Homo sapiens: one gene and its partners. The protein of the gene in region 4 binds, or shares a complex with, the protein of the main gene of each other region. Each region holds a gene or a part of one and is shown on either strand. Other genes may lie near its edges. The genes, in order: CIRSR, CHD4, SAP130, HDAC2, CHD5, MTA1 and DNTTIP1.

Region 1 (3,500 bases), on a different chromosome or scaffold from region 4:
AAGATAATTCTTGATAAGTCCCATTAGACACATATCTCCCTCCTGATCACATACTCTAACTAGTGTCTAACTGTCCTTTTTACATTTAGTGACAGGGACTGGCTTATTCGCTAGATATAGCCAATTTAACTTTAGGAAAGAAAAAGGGACAGAAGATTGTACTTTCTTTCATTTGTGATAATGTTGGGGTTTATTTTAAAACAACTTTTATGGTTATATTACTGTTAGTTTGACTGCAATAAATACATGGGAAAGTGATTACAAGAACATACAAGTAGTCTTGGCCTCCTTTTTCTTTAGCTAGAAACATGTTTTAATTAACCAGAAGTGTATTTTCAGGTGTCATTTTCCTAAATCCAAACTTTACAAAACTTGCCATATATTCCCCCAAAGTATGTGGTATAAAATATCAAAATAATTTAATAATAAGCCTCTAGACTTAACTACCAATTTATAGGAAATATAAGAGCTAGAGAAACATGTTAAATGGCATCACTGTCCAGAATGTGGGAAATCTACAGGACAAATTACCCAATTTCTTTAACAAATGAATAACAATAGGGAGGGGAAGATAGGTAAATGTTTTAGATTAAAAGAGATCTATAAATCAAATACAATATGTGGACCTTGTTTGTATCCTAATCTGAGCAAACCAACTGTAAAAAGATACTTTTGAGACAGTTTGAGAAATCTGAATGTTGACTATTCGATGACATTTTAAAATTATCAATGTTGAGAAGCATAATAAAGGTATTGAGGTTGAGATTTTATTTAAAATATTCTATGAAAAAAATAAATTTGGAAGTAATAGCTAAGACAAGAATGACAAAATATTGTTAATTGTTGAAGCTATGTGATGTAGGTTTGCAATTTTCCGTAGTATAAAGTTAAATTAAAACACACACACAATGAGAAGGGAAAAAAAATAGATCATCACTGTAATAGGAAGCAAAACTATATTCACTTTAGGGTAGCAATTTAGTTTCAGCCAACAGTGGCATCCTATAAATTAAGTACATAATATATTAAATTTGGGAGAAGGAGAGACAGGCCAGTCAGTCAGTCTGTCCTCTTTCCTTCCCCTTCCCCTTCTTCCTTCCTTCCTTCTTCCCTCCCTCCCTCTTTCTTTCTTTCCTTTCTTTCTCCTTTCTTTCTTCCTTTCCTTCCTTCCTTCCTTCCTTTCTTCTTTCTTTCTTTCTTCCTTCCCTTCTTCCTTCCCGTCTGTCTTTTTTTCTGTCTGTCTTTTGACAGGATCTCACTCTGTTGCTGAGGCCGGAGTGCAGTGGTGAGATCACAGGCTCACTGCACCCTCAACCTCCTGTGTTCAAGTGATCCTCCCACCTCACCCTCTCTAGTAGCTGGGAGTATAGGCATGTGCGCCACCACGGCCAGCTAATTTTTGTATTTTTTGTAGAGACAGGGTCTCACCATGTTGCCCAAGCTGGTCTTGAACTCCTGGACTCAGGCGATCCACCCGCCTCTGCCTCCCAAAGTGCCGGGACTACAGGCATGAGCCACTGCGCCTGGCCAGGAAAGGCATTTCTAATTCAGCCTTACCTAACCTACAACTCACTGCCCCCTTTTCTCCTACTTAATACCATAAAATTGTAGGTGATAATGCATTGTTTGAAAAGAATGATGGGCCAGGTGTGGTGGCTCACACCTGTAATCCCAGCACTTTGGGAGGCCGAGGTGGGTGGATCACGAGGTCAGGAGATCAAGACCATCCTGGCTAAAGAAAAGAATGATGAACTTCGAATGGAGCAGATGGACCTAGTGTTTGCAGTGAAACACAAGTGTCTTTGACTTCAGCTTTAGTCTCCCTCCTATGCCATTTGTGGCATTCCCCTGGGACTGCCATACTATAATTGTGGAGTCAGTTGTATGCCATTTCCTCATAGCCAGAACTTTTGAGTTTATATATTATTCTTTGATAAAATACCTATTTTACAACAGGACATTCTTTTTTTACCTTTCATTGTTTTTGTTCTGTAAAAATGAATACTCTTAGTGAGTAGATTAAGCGCTTTACACACATAATTTTGTATAGCATAATTTACCTTCTAGGAATTTTTTCTTTCCTGAGACTCGATTTCATGGTATTTTTCTAGTAGAGCCTGGGTCTAATCAGAACATGGAACTGTACACAATTGGTATTTTGATACTTATCCATATCACAGCAAAGAAAAGTTTGTAAAATAAATGAATGTTGAAAGCAGTTTCTTCAGTGGACCTGCTTTTCTAAGTGGGAACATTGGTTTTCAATGCTGTGAAGGCTTGGCTGAGATGATCTAGAAAGGAGCCCTCACAAATCTGCATTTTAGAACAAATGCCTTCTTTCTGAATTCTCTAGTATTATTCTACCATGACAAATTTAAGAATAAGCCAAACAATTTTTAAGATCCAACTCCAGCTATAATTGAAATTATTAAGGCACCATACATAAAAGTAGTTATTTTACATTTGAACATATTTGTGTAATCTATTTTATCAACGTATCTGTAATCATCTATTTTATCAACCAAATTTTGAGTTCTCAAAAGATCTGGAGTCATTTCTGTCAGTGTAACTCTACGTAGCCTCTGTCATAATAATGTGAAAGTAGAAAGATACTTGCTAAATATATCTTGATTAAACCTGACTTGTTTCATCTCCTAAACCTAGAACTTTAAACTCAGAACTTTGGTTGATAGGAGAAGGTTTAAGTATAAAAAAAATGTGAATAAGACTGCATTGTGAAAAGTATTACTACTAAGAGCATTTTTTTGTATTATGAAAAGTACCGTAAGATAGTCATGGAATTTGGATAGTGGCCGGGTGCAGTGGCTTACAACTGTAATCCCAGTACTTTGGGAGACCTAGGCAGGTGTATTATTTGAGCTGAGGCATTCAAGACCAGCCTGGGCAACATGGCAAAACCCTGTCTCTACCAAAAAAAAAAATATATATATATATAATATATATACATATGTAAAATATATATTATATAATATATATTATATTATATATAATATATGTATTATATAATATATAAAATATATAATATATATTATATAATATATAAAAATATATAATATATATTATATAATATATAAAATATATAATATAATATATATTATATGATATATATAATATATAATATAATATATAAAATATATATAATATAATATATATTATATAATATATAAAATATATTATATGATATATATAATATAATTTATATAATATAATATATATTATATATATTTTATATATTATATTATATAATATATTATATATATCATATAATATATATTATATATAATATATAAAATATATATGTACATATATAAGTAATATATGTACATATATAATATATCTTATAAAAAGACAATTTCTTATATAAGAAAGTTGAATAGGTACTGGTAAAAATAATAGTTGTTACTCTTTATTAAGTACTATTTGTCGAGCACTTCACTAAGCACTCTATTTACAGTCATACATTGTGAAAGTGTGCTAAA
Region 2 (3,500 bases), on a different chromosome or scaffold from region 4:
TGGGCAACAAGAGTGAAACTCCGTCTCAGAAAAAAAGTATATAAAGACTTAATGGGAGAGGTAAGACTTGTAGTTATGGTGGGACCTTGGGTTTTTGGAAAGGAGTGGGCTGGGCACTTGTATAGAGGAAGGTGAGAGCAGGAGCAGCAGCGCAGGTGTGTCAGTCCTTGGCTCAGCTTGAGGGGGCAGCAGGGTGGTGGGTGTTCGCTGGGGTTGCAGTGTGCTGGGGCCCTCAGTCCTGACTCTCCTCTTTTTTCTCAAAGGGTCATTCCAAAGGCCCCTTCCTAGTGAGCGCCCCTCTTTCTACCATCATCAACTGGGAGCGGGAGTTTGAAATGTGGGCTCCAGACATGTATGTCGTAACCTATGTGGGTGACAAGGACAGCCGTGCCATCATCCGAGAGAATGAGTTCTCCTTTGAAGACAATGCCATTCGTGGTGGCAAGAAGGCCTCCCGCATGAAGGTATCTCAGGGGAGGGAAGCCACCCTAGAGAAAGAGTTGTGGCTTCTGGCTTAGTTTACCTCCTTGTGATCTGGTCCCTGGTGAGGCAAAAGGGTAACCCTGGGAGGAGGAAAACATTCCATCAGTCTCCTGGTTGTGCTTACACAGAGGAACTGACTAGTAGTGACCAAGTTGCCTTCATGTGCAGAAAGAGGCATCTGTGAAATTCCATGTGCTGCTGACATCCTATGAATTGATCACCATTGACATGGCTATTTTGGGCTCTATTGATTGGGCCTGCCTCATCGTGGATGAAGCCCATCGGCTGAAGAACAATCAGTCTAAGGTGAGGGCTGAGGGAGGGATGTTGGAGCCCCCACTTTGGGTTTTTTCTAGTACTACCAATTCATTAAGGGGAAAACTTGTAGATGGAGAGGAGAGGGGAAAATTGTCTCTGCCTTCCTTCCTTGTATGTGACAGCCCTTGGTGGCCAGGCCTTTAAAAAGAATGTGAGGAGTGGGATGCTTAACTATTGGGCAGTGAAAAACTTGAAATTTTGTAGAGATTTGCTAGAGCTCTGTTTTCATTGGATTTCACCTTTCTCCATCTGCTTCACCAGTTCTTCCGGGTATTGAATGGTTACTCACTCCAGCACAAGCTGTTGCTGACTGGGACACCATTACAAAACAATCTGGAAGAGTTGTTTCATCTGCTCAACTTTCTCACCCCCGAGAGGTTCCAGTAAGTATGTGTTTATCTGTAATCGGCTCATAATTGTGCCTCTCATTCTTCCTGTTGCCCATTTCCTGTATCACTTTTCTTTCTTCCTTTCTCCTTCTCCAATAACTTTTTTCCTTTTTCTTTCTGAAGCAATTTGGAAGGTTTTTTGGAGGAGTTTGCTGACATTGCCAAGGAGGACCAGATAAAAAAACTGCATGACATGCTGGGGCCGCACATGTTGCGGCGGCTCAAAGCCGATGTGTTCAAGAACATGCCCTCCAAGACAGAACTAATTGTGCGTGTGGAGCTGAGCCCTATGCAGAAGTGAGTTGGGAGGGACAGAAGCAGACTCCATTTAGACATCTGCCAGTCTGCAGAGTGTTTCCTATTCCTCCCCCACTCAGCTTCAAGGCATCTGGTGACAGGAGCAAGCAAGGCCTGAAGAAACCTGATGCTAGGGCGCTGGAGCGCATAGTTCTTACTTATTTTAGGTTATACCTTTCCTTATTTAAAATGGTGGTGGTGGTAGTGCTTGTGCGTTAGGTGTCCTTAGTTCCAAAGTGGGATGTGTTGGAAGAAAGATCTCAGTTGTTGGCACTGCATTATTAGTCATTGAAAGGCTCTCAAGTCTAACCTGTCTTTCTACCTTGCCCATGTAGGAAATACTACAAGTACATCCTCACTCGAAATTTTGAAGCACTCAATGCCCGAGGTGGTGGCAACCAGGTGTCTCTGCTGAATGTGGTGATGGATCTTAAGAAGTGCTGCAACCATCCATACCTCTTCCCTGTGGCTGCAATGGTATGTAGTGCCATCTCCTGTTCCTCCCTGGGTTGGGTCTTCTCCATGTGGGCTTTCTTTTAATACTTTTTTCTTTGCATTTGTTCTCAGGAAGCTCCTAAGATGCCTAATGGCATGTATGATGGCAGTGCCCTAATCAGAGCATCTGGGAAATTATTGCTGCTGCAGAAAATGCTCAAGAACCTTAAGGAGGGTGGGCATCGTGTACTCATCTTTTCCCAGGTATCATGTGGACTGGGAGCTTTAGGGAACAGTCATAGACAACCCTTAGTGACCTAAGGAAAGGGATTACCATCTGACTCTTCCATAATTAAACCGTGCTTCTTTTGCAGATGACCAAGATGCTAGACCTGCTAGAGGATTTCTTGGAACATGAAGGTTATAAATACGAACGCATCGATGGTGGAATCACTGGGAACATGCGGCAAGAGGCCATTGACCGCTTCAATGGTGAGAGAGAAGGAGTTGTTTAGTTTCAGGAATCCTCATTTGCTTATATCTTTGGACTGTAACTTCTTGTGCATCTCCTTTTCTGTGTAGTTCTTTTGGGACTTTGTCATTTGAGATGGAGTAAAGCTTTTGAATGTCTCAATTGGACGAATGTATTGGACTATTCCTAGGAGATTTTTTCTTTTGGGGTATTTGTTCTTTCTGCTAGAAAGAAGAAAGCATTGTATCTCGAGGGCAAGCAAAGGGTCAGGACTTGTTCAAGCTCAAATAGCAAGTTACTAGCAGACTTGTCTGCCTCAGTAGACGCTACTAGGTTTTTTTTTTTTTTTTTTTTTTTTTTTTTGAGATGGAGTCTTGCTCTGTCGCCCAGGCTGGAGTGCAGCGGCACGATCTTGGCTCACTGCAACCTCCGCCTCCCGGGTTCAAGCAGTTCTCCTGCCTCAGCCTCCCAAGTAGCTGGGACAACAGGCGTGTGCCACCACGCCCAGCTAATTTTTGTATTTTTAGTAGAGATGTGGTTTCACCATGTTGGCCAAGATGGTCTCGATCTCCTGACCTCATGATCCGCCCACCTCGGCCTCCCAAAGTGCTGGGATTACAGGCACGAGCCACCACGCCCAGCCTGTTTTGTTTTGTTTATTCGAGATAGGGTCTCACTCTGTTGCCGAGGCTGGAGAGCAGTGGCACAATCATGGCTTACTACAGCCTGGACACACCCCCAGGCTCAAGTGATCCTGCTGCTTCAGCCTCCCAACTAGCTGGGGCTGTAGGCTTGATCCACTGTACCTAGCTAACTAAAAAAATTTTTTTGTAGAGATGGGGTCTTGCCATGTTGCCCAGGCTGATCACAAAGTTCTGGGCTCAAGCAATCCTCCTGCCTTGGCCTCCCAAAGTATTGAGATTATAGGCATAAGCCACTGTGCTCAGTATCACTACTCCTTGTTTAAAAAAAAAAAACTTTTTATTTTAATTTTAGACTTAGAAAAAAGTTGCAAAACAGCAGAGAGAGTTCATGTATACTGTTCAACTAGCTAGCTTCTCTTAATAATAACTTACGTAACTGCAGTACAATGATCAAAACTAGAA
Region 3 (3,500 bases), on a different chromosome or scaffold from region 4:
CCAGCACTTTGGGAGGCCAAGATGGCTGGATCACCTGAGGTCAGGAGTTCAAGACCAGCTTGGCCAACATGGTGAAACCTCGTCCCTACTGAAAATATAAAAATTAGCCAGGCATGGTGGTACACACCTGTAATTTCAACTATTCAGGAGGCTGAGGCAGGAGAATTGCATGAATCCCCGGGAAGTGGAGGTTTGCAGTAAGCCGAGATCATGCTACTGCTCTTCAGCCTAGGTGACAGAGTGAGACTCCGTCTCAAAACACACACACACACACACACACACACACACACACACAGACACACACAATACAAAATTAATTCACACAATATGAAATTAATTTACAGAAAAGCAGGAGTGGCTATATTAATGTCACATAGAGTAAAATTCTGAGGAAAGAAAATTGCTAGAGACACAGAGGGATATTACATACTGATAAGATAATCGGCTGACCAGGTAATGATCCATTTCTCTGCAGTGTCTTTTAAAATATAGGCAAGGACATTCCAAATTTATTTTATGAAGCCAATATTTTCATGCTATCAACACCAGACAGAGTGTACAAATATAGAAAATGACAGATCAATATTCCTCATGAATATAGATGTAAAAATGCATTAATAAAATATTAGCAAATCAGATCCAGCAGTATATACCTTGACCAAGTAGAATTTTTTCTTGCTGTGCAAAGCTGGTTCAACATTTGAAAACCAAAGTAATCCACCATATTAACTGGCCTTATTAATTTCCTAGGGTTGCCATAACAAAGTACTGTGAACTGGGTGGCATAAAACAGTACAAATTATTCTCATGGTTCTGGGGGCTAGAAGTCCAGAATAAAGGTCTGATAGGATCATGTTCTCTGTGAAAGCAGTAGAGGAGAATCCTTCCTTGTCTCTTTGGTTTCTTGTGATTGCCAGCGATCTTTGGTGTTCCTGGCTTGCACCTGCACCACTCCAGTCCCTGCCTCCATCTTCAAATGGCATTCTTCTCTGTGTCTCTCTGCCTCTCCCATCCTCCTTTCTCTCTCTCTCTCCTTCTCTCCCCTTCCTTTTCTCTCTCTCTCTCTACTTCTCTGTCTCCCTCCCTCCTTGTATGGACACCAGTCATTGGATTTACAGCTCACCTTAATCTAGTATGACTTCTTAACCAAATTACCTTTTTTGTTTGTTTTTTCTTGTGACGGAGTCTCGCTCTGTCCCCCAGGCTGCAGTACAATGGTGCGATCTTAGCTCACTGCAACCTCCGCCTCCTGGGTTCAAGCAATTCTCCTGCCTCAGCCTCCTGAGTAGCTGGGATTATAGGCGCCCACCACCACACCCCGCTAATTTTTTGTATTTTTAGTAGAGACAGGGTTTCACCATGTTGGCCAGGCTGGTCTCGAACTCCTGACCTCAAGTGATCCACCTGCCTCGGCCTCCCAAAGTGCTGGGATTACAGGTGTGAGCCACTGCGGTCAGACTACATTACATTCTAATATAGTTATAGTCACAGGTACCAAGGATCTTCAACATGTCTTTGGGGGGAAAACCATTCAACCCACAACAAAAGCTAAAGAAGAAAAATCACATGATTGTATCAATCAATATAGAAAATTTGACAAAATTAAACACCTTTTCATGATAAACAGTGTTCAAAAACAGAAAAAGAAGGGTTCTTCCTTGATTTGATAAAGTTGTTCTGCCCTTGGAAAGGCTCCCCCAGCTGTCTTATGCTTTGTTCTTTCCTTCAAACCAGCCTGCACATAGTCTAGGCTATATCTTCATTAGTTCACAAATCTCCCCCAATTCCCTTTGCCACAGCCTCCACTGTTATGGGGAGCACCTTTAGGTTTGAACTTCTTCACACTCTTGCAAATGGACTCACTTCCTTCAGGAAGAAATTAGAAGGTATCTGTTTTACAGCCCACTTCTTCCGGCAAAATGTTTGAACCAGGGCCTTAGAGATGGGGGAGGCCCTGGCTTGACACGTGGCAAGCTTCTCTCTGAGTGACAGCCCTGCTTTAGGAGGTAGCACTTAGTGGAGGTAAAGGAGGGGAGTAAGCAGCCTGGTGTCCTCTTGGCTTGCCTCTCCTAGATGAAACCATTACCTCAAATAAAAAAGTTCTTATGGCCAGGTACGGCAGCTCATGCCTATAATCCCAACACTTTGGGAGGCCATGGCAGGCAAATTGCTTGAGCCCAGGAGTTCAAGACCAACCTGGGCAACATAGCAAGACCTCATCTCTACAAAAAATACAAAAGTGAGCCCAGCATGATGGCGCACACCTGTAGTCCCAGCTACTTGGGAGGCCGAAGTGGGAGAATCATTTGAGCCTAGGAGGCAGGGGTTGCAGTGACCTGAGATTGTACCACTGCACTTCAGCCTGGGTGACAGAGCCAGACACTGTCTCAAAAAAAAAATAAAATTCTTGTTAAAATAATGGCATTTACACTGCTCGAACACAAATCATTTACCTTTTTAAACACTGAAATACATGTATTTTTATTTTTTATGGTTCCAGAGGAGAAGAAAGCTATGCTGCAGGAAATAGCTAATCAGAAAGGAGTATCCTGTCGTGCTCAAGGCTGGAAAGTCCACCTCTGTGCTGCCCAGTTACTACAGCTGGTAGGTGGAGTTCTAGCAGTTGTTCATCATGCTGAAGAGAGGAGAAGACACTGCAGATAGCTGAGTTCATAGAACTTTTTAAAAGTAACTCTGAAGCATTCCCAGCTAACATGGGTTATGATAGAATTTTTATGTGTGCTATGTAATATCACACTGTGTCAGTTACATGTGATTAAAATTGAAATATATCTAAGTTCTGGTATCCAGATCCAAAATATATGGAACAACTGTGGTGTAAGACCTAAATTTAAGATTCAGTGTTATGTGATATTGTGACATCTGAAATAGGGGGAGCCTCAAACGGCCTAACCGAGAGTCCCTCCTCCCAACTCTGCTCCCTCAGATGAAGTCTCCTAGGCAAACAACCCTTCATACCACAGGGACCAGGCACACAATTCCTGCTCCTTGCTGAGTAGTAGGCTCCAGTTCCCTGCCAGCTTCCAGTATTCCAATTTCCAATGTTACTCAGATAAGCCAGTCACACACATCATCATTCAGAGACCGGGGCATACCTCTCCCTCTCTCCTGTTCTTTTTTTTTTTTTTTTTTTTTTTGAGACAAGGTCTTGCTCTGTTACCCAGGTTGGAGTGCAGTGGCACGACCATGGCTTACTACAGCCATGATCAACCTGCTGGGCTTAAGTTAATCCTCTCACCTCAGCACCCCCAAACAGCTGGGACTGCAGGTGTGAGCCACTGCACACAGCTGATTTTTTAAAATTTTTTGTAGAGGCCAGGCACGGTGGCTCACATCTGTAATCCCAGCACTTTGGGAGGCCGAGGTGGACAGATCACGAGGTCAGGAGTTCGAGACCATGGCCAACATGGTGAAACCCCTGTCTCTACTAAAAATACAAAAATAAGCTGGGCGTGGTGGCAGGCGCCTGTAATGCCAGC
Region 4 (3,500 bases):
TCAAATTTTAAAATCATTAGGCATGTTACCCTTTACGTTTAAATGTGGTAACTAACTGCTTAGTGCATTTGTATGAGTATGCTGTAATGATTATAAAACCTGTGACTGTTTTTGTCAAAATTTATTAAAATATTCTGTGCAGTTCGAGCATCAGACAAGCGGATAGCTTGTGATGAAGAATTCTCAGATTCTGAGGATGAAGGAGAAGGAGGTCGAAGAAATGTGGCTGATCATAAGAAAGGAGCAAAGAAAGCTAGAATTGAAGAAGATAAGAAAGAAACAGAGGACAAAAAAACAGGTCAGATTTGTTTCTTGGTAATTGTGTTTTAATTGTAAATTTTAAAAATTGGGCTGCATTATAATGTTTATGCTATCGAGAAGTCAGTTGCACAGGTATCAGGAGGAAGTATGCTAGGTAGGTGACTCTTTTTTCTTACATATAAGTGGTACTTAGCTCTTAAAGCTTTTATATAAATGTTATTGTTCCTATTTGCTTTAGTAATACAGGAAACCTTATTTTCTTGATAACATAGGTTTAAAATAGTGAACATTGCATTGTGATATAGATTGGTTAAGAAAGAGGACAAAGTAATTATGAATCTATTGGTAGTGCATGGTCAGAACTGAACTTCTAAGGTAATTTTTAGCTACCTAAAGCTTATTTAATGGGAGAAAACACAAAGAAGAGTTACATATCCTTAGACCAGTTTTGCCATTTTGAAAAAGGTCAAATAATGGATTTTGTTCAGAAATTGAAGAAAACATTAAAAACTCTGAGGAAAGCTAGGAGGGGATTTGGGACCTGGGTTAGGGAGGAAAAAATACTTTGATACATTGCCTTACTTTAAAACGCTGTGTTAGCTTTAGGCAATTGAATTTGCTACCGGAATCTGTTACCTTTCATCTGACTTCCCAGAACACTTACACATGCCTCTGCCATTTTATTTAACACATCATATTATAGCACCTCACAGGATTTTGTCTCCCTACTAGACTGAGCTGCTCATGGCTAGGGAACACAGTATCTTAAATATTTGTATTCTCAGCACTTGATGCATTTCCTAATGCAAGTAATGGTGATGAGCACACGTTTTAGTTAACCTGTTAATTTTGATCCTGTAGTATGTGAAAAACTGATTTAGAGATAATGATCCAATTTTTCCTATGTCTATCAAATTGAAGTTATGTGAATAAGCCAGCTTTTTTTTTTTTTTTTAAACTAGAGAGTTAGTAATCTATAACATCTGACACATTTAGTTCTGTTCTTTTACTTGTGGATTCACTCCTCAATAGGCTACATACAGAAATTTATAATTTTAACTTCCCAATGTATTACAATGATGGCTTCAGTCTATATTTGTAACTGATTGACATCCAAAAATTCAAGCCATGACTGAATTAAGGACGACTTAACTTTAGCTGTAGGATTTTCCTAACTTTTTTTCTTTTCTTTCATTTTCACTATGTTTTCTTGTCTGTCTGTTTTTGGTGTTCTCATTTTTAAAAGCTTTATCTTTTCTGTGCTTAAAAAATAAACTCTCTATTTGGTGATGAGGCTCTTTCGATAGGGCCTTGCAGTTGTTAAAATTCTTCAGCCTACTGAAAAATGAAATACTACCACAGAAAGCTTTTTTTAAATCTATAGGTCAAAACCTAGAGTTAGGGCCACCTTTTCTCCCTCTGCACCCCAATCCAGTGACTATTCATAGCTTGTACTGCCATCGTTTAGGAAACACCCAACACAAAGCTTATTTAGACCGAATTCATTAATAATAAGATTGCATAACTTTTTATATTTTAAAAATAAAGTATATTTTGAAATAATATATATACATTTTATATTTCAAAATAGGTTTTAATCTTTTCCCAATCTTTATTTTTAGACGTTAAGGAAGAAGATAAATCCAAGGACAACAGTGGTGAAAAAACAGATACCAAAGGGTAAATGATGTTCCTTATCAAGTACTTTTTACATACTATAAAAATACTAAACATGTTTATTGGTGTGTGTTTGTGTACACACTTCAGAAATACTAGACTGAACCTTAGAACATCATTATGAGGTGCTCTGAATTTTAGTTTGTATTGGTACATAAGACAACATATGCCATCTTACCTATTGGTTTATCAGTATAACTATATCAGTCAGTTTGTATTCTTGTACGTAGTTTATCTGAGACCCTTTTTTGCTGTTATCTTTTATATATGCACTTAATGGTTTTCATGGTGTTCTTATTTCTGTGTACATGATTTTTTTAGTGTTGTGAGATAGGTAAATTTAAGAAACAATTTTAAGTAAAAACAGTTGAGGATTTTAGTGTCAGAAAGCATGTAAATGTTTGGGCACACATAATTTTGTGCCAGCCTTTACAGGATAACTTGGAATAGTTTATTAAATCACTAGAAAAATTAAGGCATTAATTACTCCAGAAACACTTAAGACATTATCAATTAATGTGTTTCTTAGCATGAGCCTACAGGACCTGATCAATATAATAGGTCAGTGCATTTAAACCAAGATTGTGCCATTTTTAATATTTCACATTGCCTCTTTTAACAGAACCAAATCAGAACAGCTCAGCAACCCCTGAATTTGACAGTCTCACCAATTTCAGAAAATCATTAAAAAGAAAATATTGAAAGGAAAATGTTTTCTTTTTGAAGACTTCTGGCTTCATTTTATACTACTTTGGCATGGACTGTATTTATTTTCAAATGGCTTTTTCGTTTTTGTTTTTCTTGGCAAGTTTTATTGTGAGTTTTTCTAATTATGAAGCAAAATTTCTTTTCTCCACCATGCTTTATGTGATAGTATTTAAAATTGATGTGAGTTATTATGTCAAAAAAACTGATCTATTAAAGAAGTAATTGGCCTTTCTGAGCTGATTTTTCCATCTTTTGTAATTATCTTTATTAAAAAATTGTACTTGGATTATCTTTTGTCTGTTTATTACTACAATATGAAGTCTTGTTTCAGTGGCTAATGACATCATTTCTGTAGACTTACAATACACTCTAGGTGAAAGATAATGATTACAGCTTGAAAGATAACTATTTGCTGTTTCTTTGGGAAGAGTATTTATAGTAATTATTACTTATCTTTGCAATAGAAATTCTACCACCTTGCCCTCTATAGCTTAGCCAGTTAGTATCAGTGAAGATTAACATCCCATTACAATTTATGAAATAATACAGACTCTGCAATTGAGATGTAGGAGTTCTTTGAGTTGACCCAAAGATTCTCAAAATTGAAATGGAAATTCTGAATTGAAAGAAGAAACTGACCAGAACTTGTATTGACCAGACTTGCCTATAGTATATTGCTGGTTTAAAATGGAACCTGCAGACAAAACCTGTTTCTTTTACTGCATTTACATGGCATCCAGGTTCCATTATTATTTACGTGACATCCAGGTTTCTAACTCAAGGAAATAAACACAACTGATTTATCATTCAGCAACTACTTATTGTGTGTCTGCCCATTTTAAGACTGTAGGAGT
Region 5 (3,500 bases), on a different chromosome or scaffold from region 4:
CCTGCTGGGGATGGGAAGGGCCATTGTTGGGAGTCTGTTCCTGGGACCCCGGGGCTGGACCAGGGCAGTCTTTGTCCTCACACTGCATTTGCCTGCTCCCCAGGTGACAACAAGGACGTGGAGGACAGCAGTGTGATCCACTATGACGATGCGGCCATCTCCAAGCTGCTGGACCGGAACCAGGACGCTACAGATGACACGGAGCTACAGAACATGAACGAGTACCTGAGCTCCTTCAAGGTGGCGCAGTACGTGGTGCGCGAGGAGGACGGCGTGGTAAGGTCCCCGGCCCGCCCTCCATCCGCAGCCCCGCCCTCCATCCGCAGCCCCGCCCCCCACTGTGTCCACGCCTTCCACTGTGACCCCGCCCTCCCGCCGCAGCCAGCCCTCCAAGCTGTGACCCCGCCCTCCAGCCGCAGCCCCGCCCTCCCTGCTGTGCCCCGCACTCCAGCGTGTGCTCCGCCCTCCAACCACGTGCTCCGGCCTCTGCAGGGCGGCCCTGTCGCTCCACCCGCGGGCTCAGGACTAGAGACACAACAGTGAGGGAAGGGACGGAGGCAGCGCTGAGGGCAGTACAGCCACATGGGCCGGCCACTGCCCTTGCACACATCAGCCGCCTGCTCCGTGGCGTCATCCCGGCTCCAGTCCAGCTTCCCCACTCTCTGAAGTGCAAGCTGATCTGCCACCCCGTTGCACAGAGCCCTGTCCCCGGGGTCTGGTTTCAGTCCCTACCCAGCTGCACCCTCCCGCCCCTTCCTCAGGGCCTGCATCTCGGCCCTGCACCTGGACCGCCAACGTTCCAGGACGGCCCACAATTTTCTTTTTTTTTTTTTCTTGAAATGGAGTCTCGCTCTGTCGCCCCGGCTGGAGTGCAGTGGCGCAGTATCAGCTCACTGCAACCAACGCCTCCCAGGTTTAAGTGATTCTCGTGCCTCAGCTCCCAAGTAGCTGGGATTACTGGCATGCACCACCACGCCTGTCTAATCTTTGTATTTTTAGTAGAGATGGGACTTTGCCATGTTGGCCAGGCTGGTTTTGAACTCCTGACCTCAGGTGATCTACCTGCTTCGGCCTCCCAAAGTTCTGGGGTTAAGGAATGAGCCACCACGCCTGGTCCACCCCACACTTTTCTCCCTTCTCTACCGGGCAAACCCCAGCTGTCCCCGAAGAGCTCCTTGTGGGTCTCTCCTGGAGGCCTTTCCGTTTCCTCCTCTGCTCCCCACCCTCCGTGCAGACCTGGTGAGCCCATGACCTTTTCCTTTGAAACCAGGAGCCTCCTGAGGGCAGGCAAGGGGGAGCTTATTCAACTCAGTACCTCAGTGCTTGACAGGAGGCGAGGAAATACTTGCTTTGTGAATGGATGGATGAATAAGTAAATGATTGACTGGATAGGGGCAGGGAGAGAAAAGCTAGCTAGGGCCGGGGTGATCAGAGAAGGCTTCCTGGAGTAGGCAGGCCATCCCATTAATCCTTGAGCCCTGAGGGGGCAAAGGGCAGGTCAGGTGGAGGCAGCCTGAGGCTTCCGGGAGGGCAGAGATGGCTCCACCCATGGAACCCGTGGTGCTGCGTCCCCAGGAGGAGGTGGAGCGGGAAATCATCAAGCAGGAGGAGAACGTGGACCCCGACTACTGGGAGAAGCTGCTGCGGCACCACTATGAGCAGCAGCAGGAGGACCTGGCCCGCAACCTGGGCAAGGGCAAGCGCATCCGCAAGCAGGTCAACTACAACGATGCCTCCCAGGAGGACCAGGGTGCGTGCCGGGAGGGAGGGACTGGTGCCCCTCACCCAGAGGCGGAGGGTGGGGCAGGATTCTGTCAGGGCATCCCTGTGCAGAACCCCCGGGAGGTGCGGGCCGGGAGAGCTGGGCGAGTGTGCCAGGAGGGATGGGTGTCCCATACCCAGAGGCGGAGGGTGGGGCAGGATTCTGTCAGGGCATCCCTGTGCAGAACCCCCGGGAGGTGCGGGCCGGGAGAGCTGGGCGAGTGTGCCAGGAGGGATGGGTGTCCCATACCCAGAGGTGGAGGGTGGGGCAGGATTCTGTTGGGGCATCCCTGTGCAGGACCCCCCCGGGAGGTGGGGGCCAGGAACGCTGGGCGGCGCTGGTTGGAGCTGGGAGGCAGCTTTTTGGAGGAAAGGGGACTGGGGGCAGGTGCAGAGGTGCTGGGTGTTTGGGGGAACAAGGTGTGGCTCAGTTCAGTGACTTCACCACTGCTCGTGACGTGGCCTTGGGCACGTCCCTTGCACACAGTATGTGTAATGTGTGGGTACACATGGTACCCTTAGTGTATAACGTGGTGGTGTTGGGATTACTAAATGAGCCCACAGGAAGTATGTGGGCCATTGTCACTGCTTTTTTATGGAGCTGGGGTGCAGGGGCTCGGCGTGGCCCTGGGCATGCTTGAACTTGAGGGTGGGCTTTGCTTGTACAGCTCACTCCGTGCCCCTCTGTCTGGCCCCCTGCAGAGTGGCAGGATGAGCTCTCTGATAACCAGTCAGAATATTCCATTGGCTCTGAGGATGAGGATGAGGACTTTGAAGAGAGGCCGGAAGGGCAGAGTGAGTCTCAGTGTTAGTGGTCTGGGCTACTGCTGAGGCCATGTCAGGGGAGCTGATGGCAGCAGGAGCGGGGCTGGTCTGGGGTCCCGCTGTCCTTGGGGATCAGGAATCTCTGGGCTCCCACCTGAGGAACTGTGGCGGGCTGCTCCCCAGGTGGACGACGACAATCCCGGAGGCAGCTGAAGAGTGACAGGGACAAGCCCCTGCCCCCGCTTCTCGCCCGAGTTGGTGGCAACATCGAGGTGGGGCCTGTCTGTTCCCGCATCTCTTTCTGCCCCTGCTTCCTGCTGCCCCTGGGGTATGGAGGAGGGCTGGGGGACTGCCCCGGGTCTCATGCCAGGTAGAGGCGGAGCTTGGACAGAACTTGGTCTGGTCTTCGCCGTCAGGGTCCTGCCCCAGGTGGAGGCCCCTGCCTTCTCTGTGCCCCCTTCCTACCTTCTCCTCCTCCCATGCTTTTCTTCCCCCATCCCAGAATCCTCCACCCCCACCCCTCTCTGTCCTGGGCTCATACTCCCACGCTCCACTCGCCCAGGTGCTGGGCTTCAATGCCCGACAGCGGAAGGCCTTTCTGAACGCCATCATGCGCTGGGGCATGCCCCCGCAGGACGCCTTCAACTCCCACTGGCTGGTGCGGGACCTTCGAGGGAAGAGCGAGAAGGAGTTTAGGTAAAGGGGCTAGGTGGTGGCCCAGGGTGTGACCACCTGCCCCTGAGTAGGGCAGGGTCCTGCGGGTGAGCCCCACAGAGGGCAGCATTTGCTTCCGCCAGGATGAGGCCGTCTGGAAAGTTCACTGCCACTTGGACTTTGGGTGGCTAGAGTCCTGGTGCCGGGCAGGGCTGATTTGCAAACACTGACCATCCGCCCCTGCCCAAACCAGCTGGTGTTATGGCAGCGAGGAAGATCCCGGTCACCCAGGGCTGTCCTAGGAGGTCCCCTCGCCAGGG
Region 6 (3,201 bases), on a different chromosome or scaffold from region 4:
GGCTGACCCCTCTGAGCCCAGGGCCCCGCCCAGCCAGGCGGCAAGGGGTGATGCTCCCTCACAAGCACTGCATGGCTGGGACTCACGTGTGAGGTGTGGAAAATTCAGTGGGAACAAATAAGCTTTTATGTAACTTGCTGGTTAACCGCTTTTTACAAAACAAAACAAAAAGCTCGAAGATGCCTGCTGACAAGGACTCCCTCCTGTTTCTACCAGCTCTTATGGGGCTGTTCCTGGGACGCCCTGCCATTAGGAACAGACAAGTAAAGCCAGCCCAGAGTGGGCTGGCCCTGGGCCCAGGACTAGGCAATGGGGGCAGCCCCAATACCAGATGGCTGGGAGGGTGCCCCAGGAAAGGAGGGCTGGGGCTGGGGCCGAGACACAGACACCGCCAAGGGATGTCGGGAGGAAGCTGCAAGGACAGGCCAGGGGTGCGTGTCCAGACAGGTGGAGATGGGGGGCCCGGCACCCGATCTCAGGCCCACCCTGCGCTGCAGCCGGCGTGCTGACCCCACAGGACGTGCCTGCCAGGACACCCAGCAGCCTCGAGAGAATGCCCCAAGGGGACAGGGTTGGCTGGGCTGGGCAGCCACTACCCATATCCACCTCCAGGTCGCCAAACCGGCCCTGCTGCCCTGGCCAGCACCGTCAGTGAAAGCCGCCTGGCGAAGGGGCTCCAGGCACATCCACACTGGCAGGCCCAGCACTTGCACACCCGGGCCCCACACACCTGGCCTCCTCATGCTAGGCTTGGTCCTATCTGCTCTTCCCCAAGGGGCCTGGGGTCCCGCAGCCCCTGCTCCAAGCAACCGGCACAGAGCACCTGAGCCAGTCCTCCGACAGAAGGCACCCATGTGTACAAGCTCAGTTGCCCACGGCCCACACAGACACCCCCGACCACCCTCCCCACTGTCCCGCCTGGCAGGCGCACGGAAGGATTGCAGGCACAGCACGGGCGGCCCCACGAGCTGAGGCTGGCAGCATGCGGGCAGTCACAGCGCGATGGCAGACAGCGCAGGCAGGGGCGCCAGGGCCACACGTGCCAGGACAGTCCACTGACAGGAGGCGGGGCCAGGGGGCCGAGGGCCAGATGCCTGGGCTCGGGGGGTCTTCACCAAGGGACCAGTGATGTCGGGAGGAATGTGGGGAACTGGGCTGTGGCCTGGCTCACGTGGACTGCCCCAAGCATGGGCCCTGGGCCGCCCGCCGCGGGGACACAGAGCAGCACAGCACAGGCATCACGGGCGGGGCCGGCGCAGCGCCCGCCCGCGGCTCCAGGCCTTACCCCTACTGGGCATCAAGAGGCGCTTCTTCATGTTGCCTGGCAGCGCCGGGGTGGGAGAGAGGGAGAGAAGACAGCGTCAGCACGCACGGCGGGTGCCCGGGCGGGGACGGGCCGGACTCACCGGGCGGGGAGGGCCACACTCACCGGGCGGGGGGGCCACTCACCGTCCACCCCGTTGTGCTGCTCGTAGCTGCGCTTGCCCAGGATGGTGGGGGAGCCGTTGTTGATGACGGGGGCCACCTTGGCGGGCGTCAGGCTGCTGAGCACGCTGGACACGCTTTTCACGGGGTCAGGCTTGGGGGGGCGGGGGTGGGTCTCTGCCGGGAATGACACAGGCAGAACGAGTTGCCTCTGCCCAGCAGGGGAGGGGCAGGCAGGCCCAGGCTCCAGCCCTCATGGTTCCGGGATACCCCCAGGAACTAAGCCCCATGCGGCCCCCACCCGAGGCCCCATCCTGACTGGGCTGGAAGTGGGGAGGTCACCACAGAACCAGAAGCCCAGAAGCCCTCGGCAAGGCGTGTGCCCGGGCCAGTCCCGCACCCCAGGGCTTCCAGAGAGCAGGGAGACCACCTGGCGGGGGCCAGGCCCCTCAGCCCCGGGACAACAGGATCCATACACAGGCCCGTGAGCACAGCACGCCTATTAAACAGCCCCCACGTCCAGGCCCCCGGAGCTGCTGGTGGAGGGCTGGCTGCTCGTCAGACAGCGAACCAACCATCCAGCCAGCCTGGCCAGGGACACAGCTGCTGAGGACCAGCCCTGACACCAGCCACCTCTTCCCACAGGACAGGGGCCACAACCCCAAACAGGGAGCAATGCCAAAGCCACTTGAATCTCAGAGCACACTTGGCTCATGACTCTGGAATGTCCTTCTCAGGACAGTCACCCTGTGTCGGGAGGGCAGATGCACAAGCCCACTCGAGCCCAGCAAATGGAGGAGGCCCCCCACCGCCACCACAAATGTCTGGCCCAGCCACCAAGCTGCTTCCAGCTGGGCCAGGGTAGCCGGCTGAGGTTCTCGGGTGTCCTCAGATGCTCAAAGGCAAAGGAACCCCCTGCCGCCTGAGGCTGCTCCTCCCCCTGCCGAGGGCGTGCAGAGGCCTGAGTGCTGCCCCTGTGGAGTGGGCGTGGCTCAGGAAGTATACTCCCTGCAGGCAGCAGGTACGACGCTGCCTTAATGGTATTACAGGCAGGGGTGTGCACCACCTAAACCCCAGACCCTCAGGCCCCAGGGACGATCAGAACACAGGGAACAGGGTAGCGAGACTGGCAGGGAAGCCCCCGGGTGTGCCTTGAGGAGGCTGGCCCCGCAGAAGACAGGGCGGCCGCTACTCCGCACTGGGCCCCATCACGACCCCAGGAGCAGGGAGCAGCCTGGGTCCCAGTGGGTCTGCCTGAGCCTGGCACGGTGCAGAGTACCCCAAAAGGACAGTTCCAGGCCCTGGGGGGCTGTCCAGGAGCTCCCAGCTAGAGAAGGCTGGGAGCACCAGTGCATGAGCTTGGGTGAGAAGCTGCCTGCAGGCAGCATTGGGAGCCCCCCAGCACGCCTGGCTGCTCACCAAGATACCGAAGCACGGCTTCCAGCGGCTTGCGTACCGCCTGCTTCAGCACCAGCGGGCTCTGGGAGGCTTCGGGCAGCCGCGCCGTGCCTGCGGGGTACCACACGGTGTGAGGGGTGGGGCACCCCCAGGGGAGCACGGGACCCTGCCTGCGCCTTGACCTGGGAGCCCTCACTGGGCTCGGCCATGTCAGCACCGAGGAGGACGTGGGGCTCCCTGAGATCAGAACTCCCAGTGGGGCTACAGGCTGGGCCCCAAGGTTGCTGCTCTCTCCCCACCACCCGCAGGAACAGAGTAAGCGGGGCGTTGGGGTGACTCACACTCGGCCTTGATGGCCGCGCTGTTGATGGGCAGGTA
Region 7 (3,500 bases), on a different chromosome or scaffold from region 4:
GTGTTTGTTCTAAGCTTCTCTGTGCTGAGTGGAGTTCCCAGTCTACTCCCAATGCAATGGCCTGCTTTCCTCCCAGCAGTCACCTACCTTAAAGAGGTGTGGGTGCTTGATGTAGATTCTTCCTCTGGTGCCCCCCATCCCCAGGGCTCTGAAAAGTAAAAGCCAAGTGGTCAAGATTCCAGAAAGTGTAGTCCTACTAGTGAACTCCTGAGCTGTTTCCTCAATCAGTGCCAAAGCTCTTAAACTTACTTGTTGGCTCGAGATCCCAACACAAAGGTGGTAGATTCATTCAGGCGAGCTGGGTCCCACTGTGCAAAAAATAGAGAAGCTCGTGAGGGTGAAGTTTAATCTGATGGGTAGGACAGAAACACTCCTCCCCCTACCCTTTTCTAACCCTTCCCCTTGTCTATTATTTAATCAACAGTTGACCCAAGACACTGAGTACTCACAATATGCTAGGCCCTGTCTGTGCTAGATACTGGGGATAAAGAGATGAATAAGATACAGTCTCTGTTTTCTAGGATGCCACCAACATATGTACAGATAATTACACCATTGTGCGATGAGGCAAGGACACAAGTGAGTGCAGGGTCTGAGGGCTGCCGAGGGGAGGGTCCAGCCAGGAAGGCTTCCTTAGAGAGGCATTTCCCAAGTTAATTCTGAAAGGGTGAGCACAAGTTGGGGTAAAGGGGGTCAGGAACAAGGGCATTCCAGACAGGGGGCAGCATGAGCAAAGACAGGTGAGAGGCAGCTTGGCCTGCTGGAGAAACTACTAGTAATTCTGTGCTGCTAACAGAGAGAGTACAAATTAGGGAGTGGCAGCTGATGGGGCTGGAGAGAGAAACACAGAGGAGTTGGAGGTCTTAGGAGGTTATGTTCAGGGGACTGCATTTTATTTCTTCTGTAGGCAATGGGGAATCGCTGAAGGCCTCTAAACAGGGAGTGAGAGTCAGATTTCCTTTAAAGATAGCTTAGTCTTCTAGCAATGTGGATAATGGATTTGAAGGGGCAAGACTACAGGCAGGGAGAGCAGTTTAGAGGCCGCTGTGATAAAGCAGTTGGAAAGCTGCTAAGGGCCTGAGCTAGGGCAGCAGTAAGGATGAACAGAAGGAAATAGGAACTGCAATATATTTAAGAGGAAGAATTGTCCAGGACTCGACTGGGTGTAGGGAGGTAAGGAAGAGGAGGAGGAGGCAAAGATGATTAAGATAACGAATGTAAAGAAGGGCTGTGAGGAAAGATTCTAATTTCATGTTTGGATATGCTGAGTCTGAAATGCCTATGAAACTTCCAGCAGAGTGGTCAAGCAGATAGTAGGATAAACAAGTTTTAAAGTAGAAAGAGGCATGGGATGGACAAAGAGGTATGGGAGTTTTAGAACATGGTGGTCCCTGAAACCATAAGAGTATATGTTTTAGATTATCCAGAGAGTTACTTTAGATGGAGAAGTGGGCCAAGGAGAGAATTCTGGGGAACAACCATTTATATAAGTCACTGCTGAGGAAGAACTCAGGAGAGAGAGGGAGGCAACAGAGGCTAATGGTTGAGAGCACAGACTCTGGTGTCAGCGGGTCTTGGGTTTGAGACTCAGCTCGATCACTTACGAGTTATGTGACTTTGGGCAAGTCTTAAGTGCATTAAGTGTATAAGACAACTGAATAAAATAATTTATGCCCACAGGGAAGCTGGCAGAAAAGGAAACGCCTCATTTATAGAATGGTTCACAGAATTGATCTCATAAGTTTGTTATAAAGATTAAATGAGATGGTCTACACAAAAGATTTAGGACACTGCCCGTTACATACTAAGTATTGAATCAGTATTAGTGACCACTAACTCCTATAAGGAGAAGGCTTCAGCAAAGACTCAAGCCCTCTCTTTGTTTTGCCTCTAACTCCAATTCCTACACAGGATCCTCTCTGAGGCCAGTGTGGCTGGAGGTGGAGAGGGGCAGATGGCTCTGGAATGGTGTGCATGCACCCTTCGCCCCCTGCCCCTTTCCCTCATGGTGGGTCCTAGAGATAGTGGGACTATCTCCTGGGATCGTGATCTCTGCCATGCTCACATAATCATACCTTGGGGCCTTCCCGGCGAATTGGTTCACAGGATTTTGGTTTCCATCTGCTTGGAAGGAAAGAATAAAGGTGAATTCTCCAAGGTGAGACCTAGGACTAAATGCCAGCTTGCTGGTGGTGGTAGGAGTTCCTCACACACTCTCACTTTAGCCCTGGACATCCTCCTTCGTGGTGACACATAAGAGGAGGAACAAAGGGAAAAAAAGCACTGGACTAGAAGCCATTCTAGCACTAGCTCTGCTCTTACATAGTGGCATGAGCAACTCCAAGAACCTCTGAGTGGCAGTTTTCTCATCTGTCAAAAGAGACAAAAACAGCAACTGCCCTACCTATCTTGTGTTTGTGAGGAATAAAACTGCTTCGTGTAGGAGACACATCTAAGGTATGACAGTTAATACTAGCCCATCTACTAAGCCAGCTGTTCCAAACTAACCCCACGCCCCTGAACCAGACCAGTGTGGCTTTATTTGATTTAAATACTGGGCTCCCATGTAAAGTTTTGTTTGAAAAAGATTCTGCTGCTTCAGAATTTTTTTTAAAAAGTGGGGTTGGGGGTTGGTTGAGGGGGAAGGAAGGATGAACAGGCAGAACACAGAGGATTTTTAGGGCACTGAAAGCACTCAGTGTGATACTAGAATGGTGGATGCCTGTCACTATGCATTTGTCTAAGTTCATGTACAATACCAAGAGTGAACCCTCATGGAAACTATGCACTCTGAGGATCAAGACGAGTCAAAGTAGGCTCATCAAATGTAACAAATGTACCACTCTGGTGCCTGATGTCGATAATGGGGGAGGCTGTGCATGTGTAGGGTCAGGGAGTATACGGGATATGTCTGTACCTTCCTCTCAATTTTGCTGTGAACCTAAAACTGCTCTAAAAAAATTAAGTCTTAAAAAAATATATATTTGAAAATGACCGTCTTGGAGGCAATGTTAACGATATGACATTAGGCAAGTAATTCTCTGAGTCTGTTATCTGAAAAATTAATGATATCTTCTTTACAGGGTGGCTATAAAGATTAAAAGGTAAAGTATGTAACGTATTTAGACCAGTCATAAGCATCCAATATATACTAACAATGACAAACCTCTGGAGTTTAATCTTTCATCAAGCTGGGCCAAACCGTTCAGGGGGTAAAACAATTTCCTCCTCACTACCCTCCTTCCTCACCCCTCCAACCAGGATAACCCCCCTCCACGATGACTTAAGCTGATGGATCTGATTTTGACAGGCACAGAACCCTGGACTCTTTTCCTTCAGGGCCCCTCTCTCCGTCTGCTCCCCTATGCTCTCACCACACTGTTGGTCCCTACTCACACCATGCCGGCGGCTGCCCGGTCGCTTGACAGGATGTGTCCAGGAGGCCGTCCTTTCCTCTGCCACAAAAAACAGCTGTCAGAGGTCTGACCCTGTGGTTACTC

What was found.
Region 1: HDAC2 (region 4) and CIRSR share a complex: the UniProt entries of both Homo sapiens proteins name them as parts of the histone deacetylase complex.
Region 2: HDAC2 (region 4) and CHD4 share a complex: the UniProt entries of both Homo sapiens proteins name them as parts of the nucleosome remodeling and deacetylase (NuRD) repressor complex.
Region 3: HDAC2 (region 4) and SAP130 share a complex: the UniProt entries of both Homo sapiens proteins name them as parts of the mSin3A corepressor complex.
Region 5: HDAC2 (region 4) and CHD5 share a complex: the UniProt entries of both Homo sapiens proteins name them as parts of the nucleosome remodeling and deacetylase (NuRD) repressor complex.
Region 6: HDAC2 (region 4) and MTA1 share a complex: the UniProt entries of both Homo sapiens proteins name them as parts of the nucleosome remodeling and deacetylase (NuRD) repressor complex.
Region 7: HDAC2 (region 4) and DNTTIP1 share a complex: the UniProt entries of both Homo sapiens proteins name them as parts of the histone deacetylase complex.

The regions. Positions count from the first base shown.
Region 1 is NC_000002.12:174,354,213-174,357,712, reverse strand, and holds part of CIRSR (corepressor interacting with RBPJ 1), read left to right. Parts: intron 1-3,500. UniProt on the Homo sapiens protein: May modulate splice site selection during alternative splicing of pre-mRNAs. Regulates transcription and acts as corepressor for RBPJ. Recruits RBPJ to the Sin3-histone deacetylase complex (HDAC). Required for RBPJ-mediated repression of transcription.
Region 2 is NC_000012.12:6,590,380-6,593,879, reverse strand, and holds part of CHD4 (chromodomain-helicase-DNA-binding protein 4), read left to right. Parts: intron 1-263; coding exon 264-464; intron 465-651; coding exon 652-789; intron 790-1,062; coding exon 1,063-1,184; intron 1,185-1,313; coding exon 1,314-1,487; intron 1,488-1,822; coding exon 1,823-1,964; intron 1,965-2,054; coding exon 2,055-2,186; intron 2,187-2,296; coding exon 2,297-2,414; intron 2,415-3,500. UniProt on the Homo sapiens protein: ATP-dependent chromatin-remodeling factor that binds and distorts nucleosomal DNA. Acts as a component of the histone deacetylase NuRD complex which participates in the remodeling of chromatin.
Region 3 is NC_000002.12:127,944,560-127,948,059, reverse strand, and holds part of SAP130 (histone deacetylase complex subunit SAP130), read left to right. Parts: intron 1-2,500; coding exon 2,501-2,604; intron 2,605-3,500. UniProt on the Homo sapiens protein: Acts as a transcriptional repressor. May function in the assembly and/or enzymatic activity of the mSin3A corepressor complex or in mediating interactions between the complex and other regulatory complexes.
Region 4 is NC_000006.12:113,940,149-113,943,648, reverse strand, and holds part of HDAC2 (histone deacetylase 2), read left to right. Parts: intron 1-142; coding exon 143-298; intron 299-1,883; coding exon 1,884-1,941; intron 1,942-2,560; coding exon 2,561-2,591; 3' UTR 2,592-3,500. UniProt on the Homo sapiens protein: Histone deacetylase that catalyzes the deacetylation of lysine residues on the N-terminal part of the core histones (H2A, H2B, H3 and H4).
Region 5 is NC_000001.11:6,124,822-6,128,321, reverse strand, and holds part of CHD5 (chromodomain-helicase-DNA-binding protein 5), read left to right. Parts: intron 1-103; coding exon 104-276; intron 277-1,575; coding exon 1,576-1,750; intron 1,751-2,463; coding exon 2,464-2,556; intron 2,557-2,709; coding exon 2,710-2,798; intron 2,799-3,088; coding exon 3,089-3,222; intron 3,223-3,500. UniProt on the Homo sapiens protein: ATP-dependent chromatin-remodeling factor that binds DNA through histones and regulates gene transcription. May specifically recognize and bind trimethylated 'Lys-27' (H3K27me3) and non-methylated 'Lys-4' of histone H3.
Region 6 is NC_000014.9:105,464,827-105,468,027, reverse strand, and holds part of MTA1 (metastasis-associated protein MTA1), read right to left. Parts: coding exon 3,165-3,201; intron 2,935-3,164; coding exon 2,845-2,934; intron 1,603-2,844; coding exon 1,450-1,602; intron 1,322-1,449; coding exon 1,286-1,321; intron 1-1,285. UniProt on the Homo sapiens protein: Transcriptional coregulator which can act as both a transcriptional corepressor and coactivator. Acts as a component of the histone deacetylase NuRD complex which participates in the remodeling of chromatin.
Region 7 is NC_000020.11:45,801,954-45,805,453, reverse strand, and holds part of DNTTIP1 (deoxynucleotidyltransferase terminal-interacting protein 1), read right to left. Parts: intron 3,456-3,500; coding exon 3,397-3,455; intron 2,122-3,396; coding exon 2,076-2,121; intron 309-2,075; coding exon 250-308; intron 149-249; coding exon 88-148; intron 1-87. UniProt on the Homo sapiens protein: Increases DNTT terminal deoxynucleotidyltransferase activity (in vitro). Also acts as a transcriptional regulator, binding to the consensus sequence 5'-GNTGCATG-3' following an AT-tract.